Regions from separate parts of the Homo sapiens genome. Here region 1 is linked to region 2. The links come from fine-mapping of genetic effects on gene expression. A gene starts in region 2. The other region holds a variant in brackets. All regions are shown on one strand. Distances are between the middles of the regions. Region 1 overlaps CAMK4 (calcium/calmodulin dependent protein kinase IV). Region 2 holds the start of CAMK4 (calcium/calmodulin dependent protein kinase IV).

What was found. PIP is the estimated chance that this variant, and not a neighbour inherited with it, causes the effect.
Region 1: its variant is fine-mapped to the expression of CAMK4 in testis (GTEx, PIP above 0.99).

Annotation. Positions count from the first base shown.
Region 1 is chr5:111,484,057-111,495,987 of GRCh38, reverse strand. CAMK4 (calcium/calmodulin dependent protein kinase IV) reads right to left here. Exons shown (of 11, transcript NM_001744.6): 11 at 1,102-11,931. The coding sequence ends at 11,522. Among named protein-coding and RNA genes, the nearest start is that of STARD4-AS1, 22 kb to the left of the region's middle. The variant TCTA/A (reference allele first, on the strand shown) is at 6,377.
Region 2 is chr5:111,218,186-111,229,969 of GRCh38, reverse strand. It overlaps CAMK4 (calcium/calmodulin dependent protein kinase IV), which reads right to left and starts at 5,586. Exons shown (of 11, transcript NM_001744.6): 1 at 5,326-5,586. The coding sequence starts at 5,486. RefSeq lists enhancers at 5,348-5,397, 6,358-6,457 and a silencer at 5,508-5,997.

The DNA of each region.
Region 1 (11,931 bases), 270 kb before region 2:
AGTTTCATATGCCTGAATTTAAAGTATGTAATTTAACTTCCTGAATTCTTACAAAAGGAAAATATAAACCTGGAAAGTCAAATTAACAACACACATGCTGATCTCTCCTGCCAGTGTCTCATATAATATTAGCTGTTATACAATACTGCTGAAACTTTATTTGCTATTATATATTCAGAACAAATAATATATTGTGCCTTTGTAAATTATGGACAGGATTTATTGTACACATGTTGAAATAATTGTGTTACCTTGATTAGGAATTATGATATTTTGTTTGGAATTGAAAAAAACTAAAAGTGATTACAAGGACACCCACGATCTATGTTATAAGAAGGCAGTTAGGGATGCTGTGGTAAGTATGTAATAGAAAATATGACTGTGAAGCAGGGAGTTACTTTCCTCATTTAATAAAACATCTGGTACTATGGTTTGAATATTTGTGTTCCCCTAAAACGCAGATGTTAAAATCCTAACCTCTAAGATAATGGTTTTAAAAGCTTTGAGAGTTGATTAGGTAACCCTAATGAATGTGATTAGTACCTTTATAGAAGAGGCCCAAGTGAGATGCTTTGGTCCTTCTGCCATATGAGGACACAGCAAGAAGGCATCCTCTGTGAGGAAGCAGGCACTCATAGATACCAAACCTGCAGGACTGTTCTTGGACTTGTGCCAGAAATGTCAGAAATAAATTGTGATAAGCCACCCAGTTTATGGTATTTTATTATAGCAGCCTGAATGGTAGTGAGAGCACTGGACTAGGAGCTGGGCAACCCTGGTCTATTCCTTCTTCAGCCACTGTGACCTTAGGTAAGCCATTACCTCTCTTGGGCATAATAGCTCTCTTTAATAAAGTGAGCTTATTGGATTAAATGATTACTAATATCCTCTTTTAACTCTAGTGATTTTATAATTTTACTCAACAGAAAATATGTGAGCACTCAGTGTTAAAAAAAAGGCTATGAAACTCAAAGTATAATTTTATCTGAGAGAATGGGAAAACACTCAAGGAGTGATTCAACTGCACATTTCAGGTGTAAGAAAAATGTCCATGGTGTCTCTCTTGAATTGTGGTAACATTTGAAATCACAGAATGCAAAGTTTTGGTGGTTTCTTAAATGATTTATTATCGTATTCTACATGCCAACTGCTTTACATTTCCCAGCAGCAAGATATAGGCTTCTTTGGGCATGTTCTGACATGTCTGTCTGAGTGAACTTACACCAAGTAACATTGGCCCTCAGGTCAAATTTCTACAATTAGTCTTCCAACACCCATTTTTTATAATGTCACGTACTCTTCAAGTTCCTAGAAAACACCCCCCAACCCCCCCCAAAATTTACATATTTAATTACTGAATTGGGTTATCCAACCTGAATCCAAGAAGAAGCCACAGCTCTCATGTGGTCTGCCTCAGGCTTTGGGCAGCTGAGACAGCCCATGACTGTTGTGTCCCATCTGTAAGAAGTAGAAACTCACTGGTCAGTCACCACCATTGAAGAATACTGTAGCTCTACAACAGCAAATGGGCATGATTTTGATGAATTCTCTACAAACATTTTCTGTATGTACATTTATGCCCAGGCCAGACTTAATACATTTACCTAAAAATATTGTAATATATCTTTGTATTAAGTAGTCAATAGCACCATATTGTCAGGTTTTAAAAATGAAGTGTTCACAGCTCCATTTTCAGTGCTCTTCAAATTAGAAGTTGGGAAGGTAGCCTATAATCTTGGTTGTGTAAACTTAAAATATTTATACTTTGTCCTCCAAATCTTACATGCTCTTGTGTTTGGCTACTGACTTGCAGCCTAAACTATTGGAGATGTAGCTTTCCTGTATGCAGTGCTGTTCCATTAATCTAATCCTCTATGCTGCTATTGAGCTGCTTATATCCTTTTAGTCCAGAAAGCTTTCAGCAACCCAGGAATAAAAATTTCTCCTTTAGGAAAGACTAGAAAACACATCCAGATAATGTCACATAAGCCTGAAAAGCCCAAGTAGGAAGTTTTCCTTTCTCAATGTCTGCTAACTTACGATTTTTGTAACCTCACAGTAATTCTACTTCTCTTCCATCATTCAAATGACAGTCAATCTTGCTCCCTATCTTCCTTCATTTGTCTTCAGGAATAATGCCGCCATTCACTAATCACAGGCATTATCTGAAATAAAGAGGCAAGACAACTAAAAGTACACATACTAAATGTCTAAATGTCTCCCAAGTTTCTTGAAGATGGATGTAAAAATACTGCCTGCAATAAATGATATCAAAAGGAACTTACAAAACAGTATGTAAAGGGACAAAAGGGAGAGATGAAAAAGGACTTGACAGGAGCAGGTTGATGTTTGGAGAAACAAGTTCTGATGGTTTTAAATTTTGTTGCCTGAGACTTAGCTTCCTACAGGTTGTCTTTTAAAATCTAAACTTTCAGGTAGAATTCAATCAGAAATCCTGGGGGATTGCCTATTCAGGTCAAATAACTGAAAAGGTTGAAAAAATGAGGTCAGCAATAACCTTGATTCGGTCCTCCACTGGCAACATTTTAGGAAGTACGTGATTTTTTGGAGTCATGAGACATTTTTCAGAAATTGGAGTCTTGGAAAACTTGAAATTATCTGTCATACTATCATTTACTCTGTTTTGTCAGTGGAGACCTGGCCAATTCAGTTTTTGCTTTCAGTGACTGAGGCTTTGCTTTAACCTGGTGACTCCCAAAAATATCTTCGATGTGTTTGATGATTTTTATTTGGCTTAGAAGCACAGCAGATGAGCCAAGTATGTCAGGCTAGATGCTCTGAGGAAAGGCTGCACATGGACCTACCCAGAGTAAGGAAGGAGTAAGGAAGTCTAATTCAATTTTGCACGAGATGAGATTCTGTTGCACACTGGCAACACTTCCCTGTGTATTTCAGCCTTTCACATTTAGTATTCTTCCTTCACCTCTGCCTTTCATTTTTCCACTCTATGATCAGGCCGGTTCTCAGCCAGACATGCCCCCTACTTCTTCCCTACCTGCAAAGATTCACCCATCTTTCACATACAGCCTGTGTTTCCATAAAGCTTTCCTTCATCATTCCTGGCAAAAGGGAGCTTTTCCCTCTTTCCATTCCTAGGGCTTATCATCTGCCTAAATGCAGCATAGGTTATATATGTACAGGTTGTATCTATAAGGTTGGCTTTTCTCTCCAACTACAAAGCTCACTCCTGGAGGATAGCATTGGATTTAATTCATCTTTGACTCCTCCATGGCATATAATAGTTTCTCAGTGAAAGTTCACAGGGAAAATTGTTCCTGGAGGGGGCTGCTCCTGGGAAGCTTCAAAATTAGAAAATCACTTCCTTACAATGTGATTAGAATGTAGGCCTAATATCCCCTAAACTATGTTGTTTAGTTTCTGGGAGAAACATTAGCTATTGACTTCATTCATTTCTAAAGTATTTGTCCATCAATGATCGTCTTCAAACTGAGCAATCAAGAAGATGGGCAGGGGAGAATGTGGAATCCTAATCTACATTTTGTTATCTTTCCCCTCACTCATTCCAGTAAAGTCTCTGCTACACATAATGATGCGGACTGGCAGAAGATTGATATCTTTTGTTCTGAGTTCTACAGCGAGTGTATCCTAGTGGCTATATTATATTATTGATTGCTGTAATAATAGAGCAATAATATTGCTGTATATTATTTAGAGTTATAATTTTAGGTACTCCTAATAAATTGATATTGCACTTTCTACTAAATATTTCATTTGTGACCTTTTGGTTACAGATGTTGAAAGTCAAACGGAAACACAAAGGTCATGAATGCCTATGTTTTTCTCCATATCTCGGTCACTAGCTTCCCTTAAGGTGGATATTTTGGAATGAACAATTTCTCTGTGACAGAAATAGACTAAGACAAGGGCCCTTCTTGGATTTCTAAATATGTAAGGAAAGCAAACGAAAGCATTTACTCAAGGCCCTCTCTTTTCAAAGAAATAAAATACGTAACACTCAGGAAAGCGTGGGGATTAGAAAATGGCTTTCTTACATAAAAGAGCTGGCTGTTTGCGTATTCCCTGAGCTATTGTTGAGAAAGTCATTGTCATATAATGCCACAAAATAAAACATAATATTTCCTAAAATGATTAATGAAAATTCAATTGATATAAATTACTTCAGAATATTATGAGAGATTCAGAACCATAGGGATCTTCTTATTTCTTAGCTTAGTAAGTAACAGCTGTAGATTGACTTAAATGTGAGCAAATGCCAGTGAAAGATGTCATTTACATAATTTTAAATGTAAGGATCAAATTTCTAAAACATGCTCAAAGTGCTAGAAATCTTTTTAATTCTACTCTCAACCAACTCAATTCATACTCTAAATTTCTTTTCTTCAGGAGTGATGCAATTTTGCGTTTTTAGTTCTGTAGGAAAATTTCACTAAGTTGTATCTATCTCCAGCACAATTATTGTTGTGAGAGCATCTGCAACATAAAACAAAATTTTCCTAACTTTCTCAGAAGCAAATGGGAATACGAACCTTAAGCTAAGGAGAAAAAAAAAAAAACAAACTGGAATATAGGAATCTGTATTCCTGCAAGTCACCAAAAAGGCATTGGGGTGCCATGAAAACCCAGGGTCATTGTTTTACTGTAAGGGTCCAGATACACATTTTAGGCTTTGCAGTCCATATGGTCTCTGTTGAAAGTACTCAACTCTGCCTTGACAACATAAAAGCAGCCACAAACAATATGTACATAAATGAGCATGCCTGTGTTCCAATAAAAATGGGGCTTTGGTAGATTTGCTCTGTGAATCATTGGTTGCTTGAGTTCTGAAAAATTTTTGGAGATTTGAGTTCAGTTCTTGGGGAATTATGTGGAAATTACTCTTTAAAAAAATATGCACATAAGTTTTAATGTGTGTATCTCAAAGACGAGAGATAAAATGAATGACTGACATTCAAGTAAGAGCATAAATAACTAATTTGTTTACTAATAATCTTTTACTGATACCTTTAGTTCATTGGGCATAAGAAATCACCTAAACCCCAACTCAGCTGTACCCACTCACTAAACTCACAAGACATTGAAAAATGTTGAAAGAAACACAGCAACATCTGTTGGACATGGAATGGACTACTATTACTATGTTTAGGCCTAACTCCTTAATAAATGGATATGTTACAACGTTCTTTTGGCTTATAGAGGACTTTTAAAATATTACTGAGACTTAAGGGTGCCGTAAAAAGAAAAACAAAATTACAAATTATGAATATGCTATTTGTTCTCTACGCTGCTGCATATTAACTGTATTGTAGGTATATAAAATAGGTCAGGTTAAAAGGAGGCAGTATGAGATGATAGTTTTCAATTTATGGTCATATATATATATTTTTTTTTGACGGAGTTTCGCTCTTGTTGTCCAGGCTGGAGTGCAGTGGCATGATCTTGGCTCACTGCAACCTCTGCCTCCCGGGTTCAAGAGATTCTCCTGCCTCAGCCTCCTGAGTAGCTGAGATTACAGGAGCGTGCCACCATGCCCAGCTAATTTTTGTATTAGGGGTTTCACCACGTTGGCCAGGCTGGTCTCAAACTCCTGACCTCAGGTGATCTGCCAACCTCGGCCTCCCAAAGTGTTGGGATTACAGGCATGAACTATCACGCCCAGCCTATAGTTATGCTTAACTGTACCTTTACAAAACAGATGAACTGCTCTACATCTATCAAGGAAAGGACAAACCTAGTAACTTTTTATCATTCACAAACTGTCAAAGTTGAGAGAGAGCTCAGGGAAAACAACCGCTTTCAAAAATTAGAATGCAAGGTCTTGTATTTAAGTAGCCTGAAATAATCTTTTAAATGGAAAATAAAGATTAATCAGAGTGAAAATTAAATGTTATTTTGACACAATGAATCACAAGCAACGATTAAATGTATATATTCTGTATCTATATGTTTTCCAGGTCAATCTTCAAAATGAGCTGAAAACAACTGTTTAGAATAGTGTGATTTTGCAGTCTTTGCATTGCTGTTTAGAGTATCAAACAAAATTCTGGGCCACAGATACGCTGCATTTCTCCAGTCTGGGATGCTCCTGTCAGGGCTTTAGAGATGACCATAGGGATGGAACAAAACACTGATCTGGGATAAGGCATAGCAAACCAAGACAAGAAAAGAGTAACCCACTGGTGGAATCTCATTTTTCCATTACTGACCAATGACAATATACCAATATTCAAATTGTATCACTTTCAATCAGAGGATGAGAAGAGGTTTTCTCCCACTTGCCTCATTTGAGCTCAACCAGGTAGATGCCTGGAGTCTTCTCTAGAGCAACATCTGATTCCTTTGAAGGAGTAAGACAGTTCACTTTCTCGGCAAGGCT[TCTA/A]TTTTGCCCTGGTGGACCTCTGAACCAGACAACAGGGAACAGACTGAGTTCTTGAAGGAAGTTAGTATCACACAACCCAATCGTCTTGAGTACATCACAGAGCATTTATGAAAGTTGGAATTTTAAATAACCAAACAAATTAATCAAGTTTGTTATTGCTCTCCAAGATAAGTATAGACATGGCCAAGCTTTATGAGCTGAGATTATATTATCTGATCTCAGGTAATAGCCACAAGGAGTAATAATGACAAAATTTGCTCTTAATATATTGGTCAAAATATAGAAAGAGGAAATACTGAACTTGGTTACTGTGGGTGGTTTGCTGATATCTCTCCAGTGGTCTCTCTCCTTTTTTTTCTTATTTGCCAAGGAGACAAAAATTCACCCTGAGTGTGTCAGGGGAATAAAAGGACTTTGAAAAATTTTATAGGAAATTATTGGGTACATTTCTGTTTATCATGTGGTTATGAATATTGTAATACCAATAGTGAAATAACATGTACACAATTTTTTTAAATGCAGACACACATAACATCTAACCATTAAACAATGTTCAACCAGTAAATGCTCAACTACTAGCAATGACCCTGATCAGGAACATATCAGTGATGAACATAAGGAAATCAGAATATGGACTAATAGGCAGGAATTACAAGGAAATTACAAATCCTTTTACATAGGTTACTATCTGGAAATTTTGCACCATCTAAAGTAAATCTAGACAACATGACTGAATACTTTGCAATGACAAATAAGTGACATAATGGCACTATGATTAATTGACTCTGCTATGTATATTTGTTAATTATACATTGAGTCAACCATCAAGAAAATGCTAGTGCTGATTCACTTTGTTGACCTTTTTTTAAAAAAATTTGCTTTGCAAAAACAATTCTAAAACAAAATAAATGGCTTACTAAGTTTATCCTTTGCCTTTTCTGGCATTTACTTTTCTTTTTCCAACTTGAAATACAACCAGCTGCTTCTGTGCAATAAAAACTGATTTATGAAACAAAATGGCTCTCTCCAAATCTTCAGCCTGTAGGCAACCCACCATCAGTTACCATGCATGTGAAACAGGACATAGGGATTGCTAAACATTCTGAATTACAAAATATGTTTAAAATACTATGAAATTGAAGTCACAGTAAAAATTGTTCCTTTCTTTTTAAGTCTTCCACTAAAAATGACTATAGAACCTTGAGGATTATTCTAAAATCAGTATGTAAAAAATTTTCAAAAGTCTTTTGTTAAATCCATGTGTAATGGCAGTGTTGATTAAACCCTTCTAAGGAAATCTTAAAAAATGCCAGCTAATGGTCATATTCCCACTTTGAGGATAACTGGCATGATATCACCATCATTACACAATCTTCATCATGCAGATTTGGTATGGTTCATTAGATTTCCAGAAAGACATATTGCCTGTGATACAAGGATGGCATGAAGCTTAATCCAGGCCTCAAAATCAGATTCTATGTGCAGTTCTTCCTGAATGAAGACACATAGTTGGCTGAGAGTAGATTTTGGTAAGCAAGAATGCTATTGGCATCATGGCAGTACTCAGGAGACTCTAGGCTGTAGTCAAGACTCCAGGGCCCATCAGGAATCAGAGGGATTGGTCAGTAGATAATTTAGTAATGCCCGTTCTTTGAAGTCATGTTAGGAATCATTTCTCCTCTGAAGTAAATGAATGGGCAGGAGTGGTCAATAAGCTTTTACTCAGTGTGTAACATTTCTGAAACACTTTCTTTGTGGCCTCCCACCAGCTCCTCAATGTGAAAACTGAGGCCACTTAAATCTAAGCATAGAACTTCAAGTGTCACTTTGCTTAAAATAAAAAGTACTCTAGACTAGTGCTGTCTAATATGGTAGCCACTAGCCACATGTGACTATTGAGCACTTGATGTCCCAAAGGCCTAACATACACTCTTGATTTTGAAAACAGTATAAAAATAAAGAATTCAAAATATCACATTAAATTTTAATATTGACTATATATCGATAGAATAATTTGGATGAATTGGATTAAAAATACTATACTTTCATCTATTTTTCTTAAAATGTGACTAATAGAAAATCTTAAATGACATGTGCTTGCATTATATTTATATAATGCACTTGTTCTGGACAATTAACTTCTACCACGATATTATTCTAATTTTTACCTATTTATGTGTCCTGGGACAAGTGAAATTACAGTTTGAGAAAAAATACTGGATTCCAATTAGACTTTGTTAATGGGGGAAATAATTCAAGACTGTCCTTCATGGTTATAAAAAAAAACCTAGTTTATGCTATGTAGCTGAACTTATCTCAAAATAAAAACCCATAATGTAATGTGATAAGTGTTAGCTCTAAAATGTAAAATGTAATTTATTGTTTGCTGAAATTTGAATTCTTTTGCTTTGTGACTATATTGCCAATTAGGAGTGATGTTATGAAGTATTTTGTGAAATTAAATCTCCATTTGTCTACTATTATTTAGCTAAGTAATCTTTGAGATAGACAATACATTCCATTTTAACAAGCAATATAAACATTGGCTGTTCTTTCAAAAATGTTAACATAATTATCCTAACTTAGGATGTATGTATATGAAATCTTTGAATAATTTGACTGAAATGACCAACATTTTTGAAAGTTTGATTTGTTTCCTACTGAAACAATGAAATTAGTCACTATATAGTCATTATCAGAATCTTATCTTTAACATGAGTCAAAATTTAAAACTCCCATTGATTTTTTTAAAAATGTAGTTTATGGGTTTAAAAAGATAGAGGGAATTATCAACTCGAGTACTCACATGGAGGAATGGTAATATGCACTCATTTAAATGAGTAAATTCTAAAATACACATTGGGCATGGTATTTGCAACGTTGTTTCTATAGTTCTCAGGGCCAAACAATGCAGTCCGCCCTACTCTAGTGTTGAAATAATGTAACAACTGCCCTTGGAACAATATGGGGGTGGGCAGGGAGGAATGATGTGTTCTGATCTTTCAGCTAAGCGCCAAGTGCCACTTTCTAAAAAGACCCCCTTCCCTCTCTTTGCTCTTCCAACACGTGTGTGTGTGTGTGTGTGTGTGTGTGTGTGTGTGTGTGTGTTTCAGTCTCATGGTAAAAAGTACAACAGGAAATTGATCCTCTTAAATGGAAATCTTAATGCTTAACAAAGAAGACATTCTTAAAGGTTAAAAATAGCGAGCCCCTTATAATGGACAACATGGGAATTCTGAGAGGGAATAATTAAATGAGGAAGGAAGGAAAGAGGGAATAAGAAAAGTGCTCTCTACTAGATAGTACAAATAAAACAAAACAAAAAATAATCTTCTGAGCCCAGATGATGTGCTTCTTCAGGGGCTCCATATCAGTGACCTGTCAGATTCTTAAACTATGAAAGATAAGAAGTCCTACCTTGTTTTCTTCCCATGAGAACAGTAGTAGAGAGAGATTTGTGATTGAAAAGAAGAATGTCTACTGAGGTCCAACAGCCTCTACAAACTGGAGCTTTAGTTTCGTTTTCTAATTTAATAGTTTTGAGGGAGAGCCAACATAATTTAAGATCTCTTTTTTAACAAGGATTTTTATGTGATAGTCATTTTTATTGTCTTTATTTGGTCTCTGAAAATAATTATTTTTTAAAATGAATTCTTTTTTAAAATTGAGAAAACCCACCAAAAATGTGACACATAATTAATCTGATAAAATATTCATTTCAACTCAAACTAGAAATAAATTGGAGATAGTGCAATTTCTATAAGGGGAAAGTGTTTCTATGAAAGTCAAAGAGAAATTAAACTTATTCTGGGAAAAATCATAATAAAATATCAGGTCTAATGTTCCAGCTTTTTAAGAGTCTGATTTGAAATCAGTATTTTTCTTTATTTTTGTTTTTGTTTGTTTTTTAAGGTAAATAAATTGCATTGTGCTAAATTTATTGGCAGCCACATTCTCAACACTACATTGTAAAATGTGGGTACTTTCATTCCAAATACGAGAAAAAGACATACTAGCTTTTCATAAATAACTTTAGTTTATAAGTGATATGTGTAGATAACCATCAATTGGATAAAAAAAGAGCTTTGATAAACAATAATGTTTTCTTACTCTATTAAAGTCAATAATGAATAATCTTAAAATGGAATATTATTCCTACTCTATGAAGACATTTTGGCACTAACCTGTGAAATAGAATTTTCTAAATATTTGCAACTTGGTAATTATAGAGTTTATCCATTAAAATGTTCTTATCTGTAAAGTTGTATAAATTCATGAGTAAATACAATTTTATCTGGAAAATGAAAAGGAATCAATCTTATCTTCATCAGTTTAAGTACAGTCTTACCTTCTTTTCTTCCCTGTTTATTACACCCTAAGCTTTGTCTATCAGAAAGTCATCTTATTGGAGAGCAGGTGAAGGAAAGAATGGAACTCAGCGTGAGTTTGTAAATTACTTCCTCCAGGGTTGTAAAATGGCAGAATCTTAGAACATTTTGGTTATTATTAATATAGTGTATATAAATAAGAATAAAATAAAGCATTCTCCACACAGGCTTTAGGGACATATGGCTTCATGGCCTTTAAGGATACTTCAATTTCTTACCATTGCAAGTGGATTTTTTTTTGCACATATGTACAACTATCATCTATAAGCATCTCCTTGTAAACAGTTTGAACACATCAATGATAAAAAGTAAAATGTTGTAAAAGTTATGGGAACATGTCTTTTAGCACTACCTAGTATTAGCTAAGCAGTAGTTCAAAGGAATTACTGCCTTGTGAAGAAATCCAAAGGATGTAGGATGGCTAGATTTTCAAAGCAAAAACAATTTGCTACTATTCACTTCAAATATGTGCCACTGGTTGCTGAAAATGTATGCTTTTAAGTGTTACGTTGTGTTAACTTGCAAGATTTAACTCATCGGTATTAGGTATCCATTACATGCCATAGAAGACACTATTATTTTCATAAAGCAGTCACATGCATTGAAGTTAGAATTACCAACTGGTATATATGTATGTTTTTTGCACCTCAAAAACAGAATCACTATAGTACATATCATGCTTCCACACCTTTCTTGCTGAAGGACAAAGTACATAAAATGCCGGTGTTTGGCTTCCAGATCTGAAGGAAGCTGTTTAGTACTCTGGCAGGATCACATCTTGCTGTGGAACTTCAAAACCCACAGCAGAGCTTCCTTGCCCTTCTCTGGGAGCTGCTGCCTCCTCCACAGTCTTCAGCTTCTCCTCTGCTAGGCCCTCCTCTAGTTCCAGGTCAGCCACCTTTATCCCATCCTCCACTGCCTTGGGCACCATTTTGGGGGCCTCTTCAGCATTTATATCTGCACCTTTAACTTTCTCTAAGGCTTGCACCTTCATCAGCTCAGCCTGTGCCCCCTTAACTGCGGCTTGGGCCCCATCGCCTTGAATTTTCTCTCCTTCTGGAATAGCTTTCATGTCCTCGTTGCCATCTTGGATTGGAGAAGGGTCTCGGCTAGCCTTGTGGCTCTCCTGGATGCTGCCATGGCTGCTGCTGGCACTTCCCAGGC
Region 2 (11,784 bases):
ACTAAGTGCTCTGCTAGACATGAGCACATAATAGTGAACCAGCCAAACCCACAGACTCTGCCTTCTGGAAGCTTACAGTCAGTGTTCCTGGGAAGACCCTATGAAGCCCCAGTTTTTATTCTCCCACTTGCAATCCCACCTTGCTCCTGAGTCAACTGCCTGAGAAAAGAATCAGATGCACAGAGAACAAGACAGGGTTGGCACAAGTATATTTTTAATTCCTAGTAAGATAAAAAAACCTACCATCCCCCAAGAGCTGGAGCTTCTAAGTGCAGTGTGTGTAGCAGGAGATCAGAAGCCAGCAGTATACCTACCCAGATAGGCCATGGGGCCCTAAAGCATGGTGTCGGAAAAAATCAAGGATCTAAGAAGCTCTGGTCACGAGAATGGTTTAGGAAATTGGTTGACCAAAAAAAAGGAGAATCTGTTTCTTCAGCAGCCATGCTGTGGACTGAATTGTGTCCCCTCAAAATTCACATGTTGAAGCCTTATTCCAACTCCAATATGATGGTATTTATAGGTGGGGCTTTTGGAAGGTAATTATGTTTAGTATGAGGTTATGCAGCTAAACCCCTCATCGTGGGATCAGTGCACTTGTAAGAAGAGGCACCAGAGAGCTTGGTTTCTTTCTCTCTTCCCCTCTCTTTCTCTCTTCCTCTCTGCCTTGTGACGACACAGCGAGAAGGCAGCCATCTGCAAAACAGAGAGTCCTAACTGAGGAAATGCATTGGCTGGGACCCTGATCTTGGACTTCCTAGCCTCCAGAGCTGTGAGAAATGCATATTTATTGTTTAAGCCACCCAGTCTAAGACATCTTGTTATATCAACCAGAGCCAAGAGCACTAAGACAAGCCAAGAACATTGGCTGAAGCCCTTCTCTTAGAAAATGCACGCTTTCGTGTTTCCTTATAGAAAGCATTTGCTCACTGTGACCTGGAGCCAGAATACATGTTACCATGTAGAATATACCACTTCTCAGTCTCTGAGTTCCTTCCCAACACAGCCCCTGGCACTCTTAGCCAGTTCAAATTACTGTGTGCCCAGCAGACCTTAGGGAGACACCAGAGTTTTTCCAAAATGTTTAGAAGGGGAAAAATCAGTAATGACCTGGAGGCAAAGATAGGAGCCTTTTTCTCTACAGGGCTGTGCCAAAAGGATACCACCCAATGTTGCCAATTGGTCTGCAGGGAATTTCTTTAAAAGACTCTGCCTCATAGCTTAATCTATCACACACAGATTTATGGCCTACAACAGCACTTTTCAAACTGAATCACAACACATTAGTGGGATGTGAAATCACATGGGTTCAGCCAAGTTTTTTTAACAAAATAGATGAAATCAAACAGCATATAATAGAAAATATTAAAGTGCATTGCTGGTAATAAGAATAAACACTGTTTTATGAAATTGTTTCTGTTTTATACACACACACACACACACACACACACACACACACACACCCCTTACTATGGAAATCTATTTGGTTCCTAAACAATAATACATATAGCAAGGGATCCTATATAATTAGTTTAATTGAGTTGACAAATAAATGTATTTAAAATTATAAATGTATACACATAATTGTGTTTACATAAATGTGACACATAAATGTATTATTTAAAATTACATTGCAGTGGGGAGGAGTATGCAAAGTGCCTAGCCTAAAGAAACTACAGTAAGTGGAATGGGAACTAAATTTAAAGAAAAAAAAGGTTCCAAAATAGTTTAACACATTCTTCTCTTGTTCTAATTATCTTTCATTTGGTTTGGTTTCCTTGGATTTGTATGTCTGGGAATACATCTGGTTTTCTTATCATCTTTTCTTTCAACATGGAACAACAGTGAGAAACTAAAGGTGAGACAACTGAAAACAGGACATGGGTTTGCATGCACAGACGAAATCTGCACCACCAAGCAGGCTGGGCCATTTCCTGTCATTCCATGTGCCAAACCACTGGGCGGGATCTGGACCAGAGGCAGCTCCCTTCTCCCTCAGAAAAGCCTTTAAAATGCCAGTTTCTCAAATCACTGGGCAAAAGACCAACTGCTCTCGAGGATCTGGAGCCCTGAATAGGATCATGGCCAATTCGTATTTTTAAGTAGAGTTGAATGTGTGTGTGTCATGATTTTTGTAAACTTTTTGAAAAACTCTATGAACAAAACAGTGTCTTCAAATGTGATTTTAGGAAAATTACTTTGCCTGATACTTTTAATTCACCCGTAACCCCTATACTCTATGCCCTCCCTGCCAAAAGAAAGTGAGCACATCTGTCTTGGTCTCAATGGCTCCATGTGGATCAGTGCTGCCAGCACCTGCCTTCGCCAGCACTATCCAGGGGCTTCAGGTGGATATAGCCTTGGGAGTTTAGCTCCCCTTGAGTTCCCAAACACATCCTCAGGGTGTATCGCCCCAGTGGTCACCGTCCAATCTTCTTGCAATCAGGAGTCACTACTTTACAACAGACAACTGTAATGGAGGAGCCAACAAATCACTAATTCTGGTGGAGACTGTCTACTTTCTAGAGCTAACCACAACAGCAACACGTAACACCAGAAGCACTGTTCTCTTAGTATATTAATGACAACTGCATTACTAATGAATTAGAGTCACACTAGCAGGTGGATTTGGTCCAAAGCTGAGAGTAAAGGCTTGAAACTGATGACCTGAGTTCAACTTGATCTCTAGTGTAGGAAGAAAGAAGATTTTAGTCACTCAGCCAATATCTACGATCATCATTCTGTTGCATTCTCTGGCTCTATCGATTCTTAATAATTATATCTAGAATAGTAGTTGATGTTTTAAGTTTATTTACTTAAAAATTTCTGATAATGAAAATGATACTTCTCAAAGTCTCAGCCAGAGTAAGCATGCACCCCACGAATGCTGCCATGTACAGAAAACTTACCTAACAATACGCTTTACTGCTGACAAACAGAGCCTAAGTAAGACATTTTAGCTTTTATTGTTCCTCAATGTAGTTTAACTCTGTGATCTTTTACAGTAATCATAAGACTAGATAATAGAGCGAGAATCTTAGCAATGTATAGACAGAGGGTCTCCAATAGGATGGGCTTAACTTACAATTTTTCGACTTTTATGATGGTGGGAAAGTGATAGCATTCAGTAGAAATCGTACTTCAAATTTTGATCTTTTCCTGAACTATACATGGTAGGATACTCTCTCTGATGCTGGGCACCGGCCATTAGCCACAGCTCCCAGTTAACCACAGGAGGGTAAACAACCGGAACTCTAGAGTGTTCTCTGTTGTCAGTGTTTTTTGAATATTGTGTTTTGTGTTTCATATCTCACCATGTCTACAAAATCCCATCTGTACACGGTATTTAACAGTTATTATAAAATAGGCTTTATGTTAGATGATTTTGCCCAAATGTAGGCTAATATTAAGTGTTCTGAGCATGTTTCAGGTAGGCTAGGCTAAGCTACAACGTTTGTTAGCACAGGTGTAGTAAATGCATTTTCAACTTCTGATATTTTCAACTACAGTGGGCTTATTGGGACATAACACCATCATAAGTTGAGAAGCTTCTGTATAACCGATTAATATTTGTCCTCCAAAATTTACTGCAACACGTAATTCTGAACTGAAAAATAAAAAACCCAAACTTCAAATTTCTCAGTTTTTTCCTATGCAGGCTACCATCTCATAGGGGTATACAATTGGCAGTTTATTTTTTTCCCATTTTTCAAATTAAAGTGAATTTCTTGAGTTTCATGACGATGAAGCTTATTCATAAAGACAACGTGTGTGGATAAGTCAGCCTATTTGAGGCATCTAGGGTTAATGTTACTCTGAAAACAGATGTGCTACTGGGACAGTCCCTGCAGCAGCATCAGGCACTTCCTCTACTACACAGTAGTTTATAAAACACCCAGTAAACAATTTTAAGTAGATCATCCCTTTACTCAGAGGTTTACATGGTTCCACTGTCACGCATCATACAATTAATAACAGGCATGTTTTGGACCTTACAAAAATCGACATCATTGTCCTTTCATTTCCACCTATATATATAATAGATCTTCAGATGAATACTGAAAAACTTGATCAAAAATGGATGTTTATGTATACATTATTCAGTGCTCAAATACTTCAAAACATTTTTAACAGTGACAAATCACTGAATTTTCATTCAGAAGTTTGCCTATTTTACACATCTATATTCAATGAGCCTTCAATAGTACTAGCAAAGTGGGGGGAGAGTGGGCAGTGATCATTACATCTTCCCACTAAATACCAACATCCAGAATCCTGCTCTGGATCCTCCAATGACTTGAAAAAATAAAAAGGCTGTTAGCAATACTATTTCCAGCAAAAAGAGAATGAAAAATGAAATTGCAAAGGAGTAGTAAGTACAGAAGCTGCAACTTGTCAACCGTTGAAATTACATCTTCAGATTCCCTATACTAAAGAGCCTGGATCTAAAATAAGTGTTGAAAATAAATCTCCTTACCTATGGATAACAGAGAGAAAAGACAAAAAAAAAGGAAGTAAGGGAAAGAAAACTATAATTTTCAATGGATACAAATACGAAAGCATATGGAATCATGCAGAAGGCCAAACTGCTACCTGTTTGGATCTTCAGAGGAGGGATAGGGGACATATCTGCAATCCTAGGGAGATGGTCTGTTGCATATATAATTTAAATAAATCACTCCAGCCCATGAAAGAAGGGAAGCAGCAGCATTCTCACTAATTACCACTGCCTGGATCCCATATGCTGCTTTCTCTTTAAAGCCACACTAGTTCATTATTCTGCCTTCAACTCTCTTAAATGATTCATTTCTCCCTTCACTCCTGAGCAGACTCTGCAGGGAAGCTAGTATTTAAGTTTAATTTCTCGTGTCACTTGCTTTGGAGAGCTTGACGAGGGGAAGGAGGAGGAATCTAACTTAATAATTCTGTCTTGATTTGGAGGGGCACCCTCCGGCCCCCACCCTAAACAATAACTAGACAAACAGGACCCTCTGGCAAGCTATAATCGTGAGCAAAGATATCAATTGGGAAAGCAGGGCCCACGTGCGGTGGGAGCTGTCACCCAAGGGAAGTGGCAGCCTGCGAGAAGGAGGGAAGGTGGGAGGGAGTCGGGCTGATCCTACAGCTGCACCGGCCTAGGCGCTCTGGTGGGGTGGGAAGGACTCGAGCCGCACCTGAATGAAGGTTAGCTCTCTCTCAAGACACTAACTAGGTAGGGAGAAATCGAAGGGCACGAAGGCAGGCTCCCGCACCCTCCGAGCCGTCGCTGCGAGAGGGACAACCCCCAGTGCACGCCGCGGGCTTCCCCAGCCGGAGCCCGCGCCTTACCGTCCCAGCTCCGACTCCACCTCGAAGAAATCGCTCAGCGCATCCCTGTTGGAGCCGTCGATCCAGTAATCCGGGACGAGGCTCGCGGTCCCCGGGGCCGCACTGGCGGTGACCGAAGAGCAGGACGAGGCGGAGCAGGAGGGCACCGTGACTTTGAGCATCTTCGCAGCGGGACTCCGGAAGCCGCCGCCGCCGCCGCCGCCGCTGCCCGAGCGAGAAGCCGGCCGCCAGCCGCCGCCTGCGAACGCAGGAGCGAGAGAGAGGCGGCGTCCTTCACGCGCGCACACGCCCACCGCCGCCGCCCGCGCTCGCAGGGACGGTGGGCGGGGAAGGGGGCGAGCCTCTGCGAGAGGGCGCGAGGGGGAACCCGGAGTCGCCGCCCGCTGGAGGGAGACTAGCTGCACCGCTGAGGAGAGAGGCTCCCTCCCCCTCGCTCCTTCCCTCCTCACCCGCCCTCCTCCCGCGCCGAGCCTTTCCCGCCGCCCTCCCTCTTTCCTTTCTCTCTCCCAGGCTGTGGCTGCCGCGGTGCCGGCTAGGGCGGCTCCGGATGCTGGAGCTTGGGGAAGGCACAAGGACCCGCGCATCATCCCACGCGCCCTCCCGCGGGGACCGGAGCTGGAGGGAGACCGTGCGCAGCGGGACGCTGCTCTGGGATGGCGGGCGCCAGGCGTACCCTGGCAGCACCTGGGTCCGGGCGGCCCCGCCGGATAGCGAGAGAGGGACCTAGGTGGTGGTGGCGCAACTCATCCCTCCTTGAGCGCGTCTCCGTGGCGAGTCCCTCCCACCTAACACCAGCTAACCAGCCATCCTCTGTCAAAGCTTATATTGGTGGCCGGGGAGGGAGTACTGTGGTCGCCGATCCCTCAGGGCTCCTGTGCCTGGACCCAGTGAGAGCTGGAGGAAAAGGAAGCGCCCAGGTCCACACTGACCTGACTCACCTTTGAGTGAAGTCTTCAGTTGGAATAAATGCTGTCGTCGCTGCTGGTGGCACTGCCTCCTCGGCACTGCTGGAGCTCCTAAAAGAGGAGATACTTGGCTGTGTCGAGTTCAATCTCAGCATCTGAAGTGGCTCAGAATTACAGTTCTAGAAGGGCCTTGTGGAAGCCAACTAGTAAACCCTCTGCCTTAAGGCAGGACCTGTCCTCATTCATGACAGGGAAGACTGCTACATGTAAAAGCCCTTTTTCTCTTCCCAAGAGATGTATCCCATGATAAGCATTCTTATGTCCTGTCCATCAGCTGTCATGGCTCTTCTTCTCAGTATTAAACATACATCACTTAAACTACCCTTGAACTTTTTTCTTTTCAGATTTCAGCAAAGACGAACAACAATTAGTCATGTTCTGATACATATCTATGACAGTTATTATACCACAACTCATTTCTGGCTAAATAGCTCCAGGCGCTTTCACCTTACTTCACAGGTGTTACTTTTGGCCTTTTTTTTTTCCTGAGTTTCCTCCAACATGCGCTAAACTCTTCCTAGTAAGTCTCCATTCCTGATAGCACCAACCATTAATATGGTCCAATATTTTAATCTAATTTATGGATTTATTATTCTTAAAAGCCTGCCTGCTATACTGGTGAACAAACAACCAAAAATATCCAATCAAGTAGTTACAGGAATGTGATTCCTAGCTGATTGGAAATTGAAAATATATATAGTCATGCATCCCTCAACCACGGTGAGAAGTTGAAGAGATGCATCCTTAGGCGATGCAGTTGTAAGAACATCATAGGGTGTACTTGTACACAACCAGATAGTATAGCTTACTACACAGCTATGCTGGATGGAATAGTCAATTGCTCCTAGGCTTCAAACCTGTACAGCATTTTACTATACTGAATACTACAGGCCAGCGGTCCCCAACCTTTTCGGCACCAGGGACCAGTTTCTTGGAAGATAATTTTTTCCACAGACAGGGGGTGGGGAAGATGGTTCTGGGATGATTCAAGTGCATTACATTTATTGTGCACTTTAATTCTATTATTATTACATTGCAATACATAGTGAAATAATTATACAACTCACCGTAATATAGAATCAGTGGAAGACCTGAGCTTGTTTTCCTACAACTAGACGGTCCTATCTGGGGGTGATGGGAGACAGTGATAGATCATCAGGCAGTAGATTCTTATAAGGAGTGCACAACCTAGATCCCTTGCATGTGCAGTTCACAATAGGGTTCATGCTCTTACGGGAATCTAATGCTACCACTGATCTGACAGGAGGCAGAGTTCAGGCAGTAATGTGGGAGATGGAGAGCCCCTGTAAATATAGATGAAGCTTTGCTTGCTTGCCTGCAGCTCACCTCCTGCTGTGTGGCCCAGTTCCTAACAGGCCACAGACCAGCCCATGGCCTGGGGGTTGGGAACTCTGCTGTAGGCAACTGTAACACAACAATAAGTATTTGTGTATTTAAACATATCTAAACATAGGAAAGGTACAATAAAAATATGGTATAAAAGGTAAAAAATGGTACACCTGTATAGGGCACTTACCATGAATGCAGCTTGCAGGACTAAAAGTTGCTCCGTGTGAGTGAGTAAGTGGTGAGTGGATATGAAGGCCTAGGACATTACACTACTTAGACTTTATACATACTGTATGCTTAGGCTACACTAAATTTATTTAGAATAGTTTCTTTCTTCAATGGTAAATTAACCTTAGTTTACTGTAACTTTTACTTTATAAACTTTTTAATGTTTTAAAACTTTTTGACTCCTTTATAGTAATGCTTAGCTGAAACACAAATACAAGGTATTTTATACAAAATATATTGTAAAGCTGCACAAAAATGTTTTCTATGTATCCTTATTCTATAAGCTTTCTTCTTTTTAAAACAACTTTTTTAACTTTTTGAACTTTGTTAAAAACTAAAACATACACACACACTAGCCTAGGCCTACACAGAGACAGGCATCGATATCATGTCTTCCGCCTCCACATCTTGTCCCACTGAAAGCTGGAAGGGCTTTAGGGGCAATGACATGCATGGAGCTGTCATCTTCTATGATGACAATGCCTTATTCTGGAATACCTCCCGAAGGACCTGCCTGAAGCTGTTTTACAGTTAACTTTTTTTATAGCTAGAGGAGAAAACTCTAAAATAACAATAAAATGTATAGTGTAGTAAATACTATACTAGTATTTACTGGTAACATAGTATAAACTAGTAACATAGTCATTTATTACCATTATAAAGTATAATGTACTATACATAATTGTATACACTATACTTTTATATGACTGGCAGCACAGTAGGTTTGTTTACAGTGGCATCACCATAAACACATGAGTAATGTATTACACTGTAAGATTAGGCTATGATGTCACTAGGTGACAGAAATTTTTCAACTCTATTAGTCTTGTGGGACCACCGTTACACATGCAGCCCATTGTTGACCAAAATGTTGTGTGACACATGACTGTACAAAAACTATTCCTCATGATAATTTTATAATGATGAGCACAAACTCAATGTACAAATGCTCTAACAAATAACAAGTATATGCAAATTCATACAAATTCACTTACATACTAGCTTGTTTGGTGAAAGACTGAAAATGCCCACGTGATGTTACTTTTCAGAGAATAGATTCACTAATCGTGTTGAAAAATCAAGTTCACAAGCAAAGCAAGATAATAAAGCTCTCTAAATTCTAGCTTTGACTCAGTAAGTTTCCCTTGGCTTGCACTGACCAGTGGACAAATGGGCATGAAATAGTTGCTAGGCCATTTTTATTCTCACTTCTTTGAGGCAAGTCCAGCAGCAGCAGCACTGCATGTAAATGCTTGTCTGTTCTTAGCAATTCTTTTACAACATAAGCCCAAAGCAAGCATGTTACATTAAAGGAGATGGTAAGCCTTTTTTCTCCTGCTACTTTAGGTAACAATGGTGCAAGAAAGCCATTTCATGGTACAGAGGTGATTATAGAATTCATTTTATATTCAGCATAATTTTAGTCATTTGACATCTATGCTTTTCATAATTGACTTTTGTAAAAATGCTATTAATTGAAGTTTAAAAACAGGATATTTTGTATAATCCATGCAGCTTACTTTCATTTGAGACATAGATAAAAATTAATAAATATTAAAATAGATGAAACAGGAATTAAATATACAAAATGTACCATTACTTCTTATCAAAACTCAACTGAAATGACCAGAAAAGGAACAGGGTTATCATCCCACAAAAAGAAAGAGAGAAGTGATGTCAACTGAATCTTGAACACGTAAACAAACAGTAACAGAGGAGTTAATAAATCAGAAACCTAGATTTGCAATGGGAAAAGCCAATAAGAAGAAATCTAATCCCTACTATAAAATCAAGACATGTTCAGAAGTTAGAGTACCAGATAGTTCTCAAGGTGAGGCATAGAACAGAGAACAAAACATTGGTTAAAAAATTTTATAAAAAGTTATTAGGCCCCTTCATCCAAATTAGAAAGGAAGAAGTCAAATTGTCCTTGCTTGCAGATGATGTGATCTTATATTTAAAAAAGCCTAAAGACTCCACCAAAAAAAAAAAAAAAAAAAAAACTATTAGAATTGATCAGTCCAGTAAAGTTGCAGGATACAAAATCAACATATGAAAACAGTAGCATTTCTGAAATAGAAAATGAAAAAGTAATCCCATTTACAATAGCTACAAATAAAACAAAATATCTACGGATAAACTTAACCAAAGAAGTGAAAGATGTCTACAATGAAAACCGTAAAACATTCATGAAAGAAATGGAAGAGGACACAAAAAAATGCAAAGATATTTTATGTTTATGGATTGGAAGAAACAATATTTTTAAAATGCCCACACCACCCGAAGCAATCTACACATTCAATGCAATGTCTATCAAAATGCCAATGACATTCTTCACAGAAATAGGAAAAATAATGCTAAAATTTATGTAAAACCACAAAAGAAGCCAAATAGACAAAGCAATCCTGAGGGGAGGCCAGGGCAGGGGGAAGCTGGAGGTGTCATATTACCTGGTTTCAAATTATAATACAAAGGTAAAGTAACCAAAAGAGCATGATACTGGCATCAAAACGAATATATAGGCCAGTAGGACAGAAGAAAGCACCGAGAAATAAATTCATGCATTTACAGTCAAATCATTTTTGAGAAAGGCACCCAGAACATACATTAGGGAAAGGACAGTCTCTTCAATAAATAGTGCTTGGAAAACTGGATGTCCATTTGCAGAAGACTGAATCTAGACCCTCTCTCTCACGATACAAAAATCAAGTCAAAGTGGATTAAATACTTCAATCTAATACCTGAAACTATGAAACTACTAGAAGAGAATATTGGGGAAACACTCCATTTCATAGGTCTGGGAAAGATTTCTTGAGTAAGGTCTCAAAAGAACAGGCAACCAAAGCAAAATGGACAAATTGAATCACATCGAGCTAAAGTTTCTGCACACAGCAAAGGAAACAATCAAAAAAACTGAAGAGACAACCCACAGAATGGGAGAAAATATTTGCGAACTATCCATCTGACAAGGGTTTAATAACCAGAATATATAAGAAACTCAAACAACTCTACAGGAAAAAAAATCAGATTGAAAAATGGGCAAAAGATCTCAACAGACATTTCTCAAAAGAAACATACAAATAGCCAACAACTATATAAAGAAATTTCTATTCATCAAAGAAATGCAAATCAAAACAAGGAAATATCTCACCCCTGTCTTTCTGATAAATGACTTTTATCAGAAAATCACCTTAGAGTGAAACCTACCATTAAACAGGCTCAGTGACCCAAAGCTTCTAATGAGATACAATCTTTCTAATAAATGACTTTTATCAGAAAGACAGGCAATAATGAATGTTGGTGAGAATGTGGAGAAAAGGGAACCCTCGTACACTGTTGGTGGGAATATAAATTAGTACAGTCACTGTGAAGAACAGAATGGAGGTTCCTCAAAACAATAAATAAATTAAAAATAGAACTAACATGTGGTCCACAATCCCACTGCTAAGTATATATCCAAAAGAAAGGAAATCAGTATATCAAAGATACATCTGCACTCTCATATTTATAGCAGCCATGATAAAGAATCAACCTGAGTATCCATCAGTGGATGAATGGATAAAGAAAATGTAGTATGTATACACAAGGAAATATTATTCAGCCATAAAAAGAATGAAATCTTGTCATTTGCAACAACACAGATGAAACTGGAGGACATTAAGTGAAATAAGCCAGGCACAGAAAGACAAATATTGCATGTTCTCACTCATATGTGGAAGCTAAGAAAAATATTGAACTCTTAGAGATAGAGAGTAGAATGATGGCTATCAGAGGACGGGAAGGGTAATAGCAAGGAGGGGATAAATAGGGGATAGTTAATGAGCACAAAAATACAGTTAGATACAGGGAATAAGATCTAATGTTCAGTAGCATAATAGGGCAACTATAGTTAACAGTAACTTATTACATATTTCAA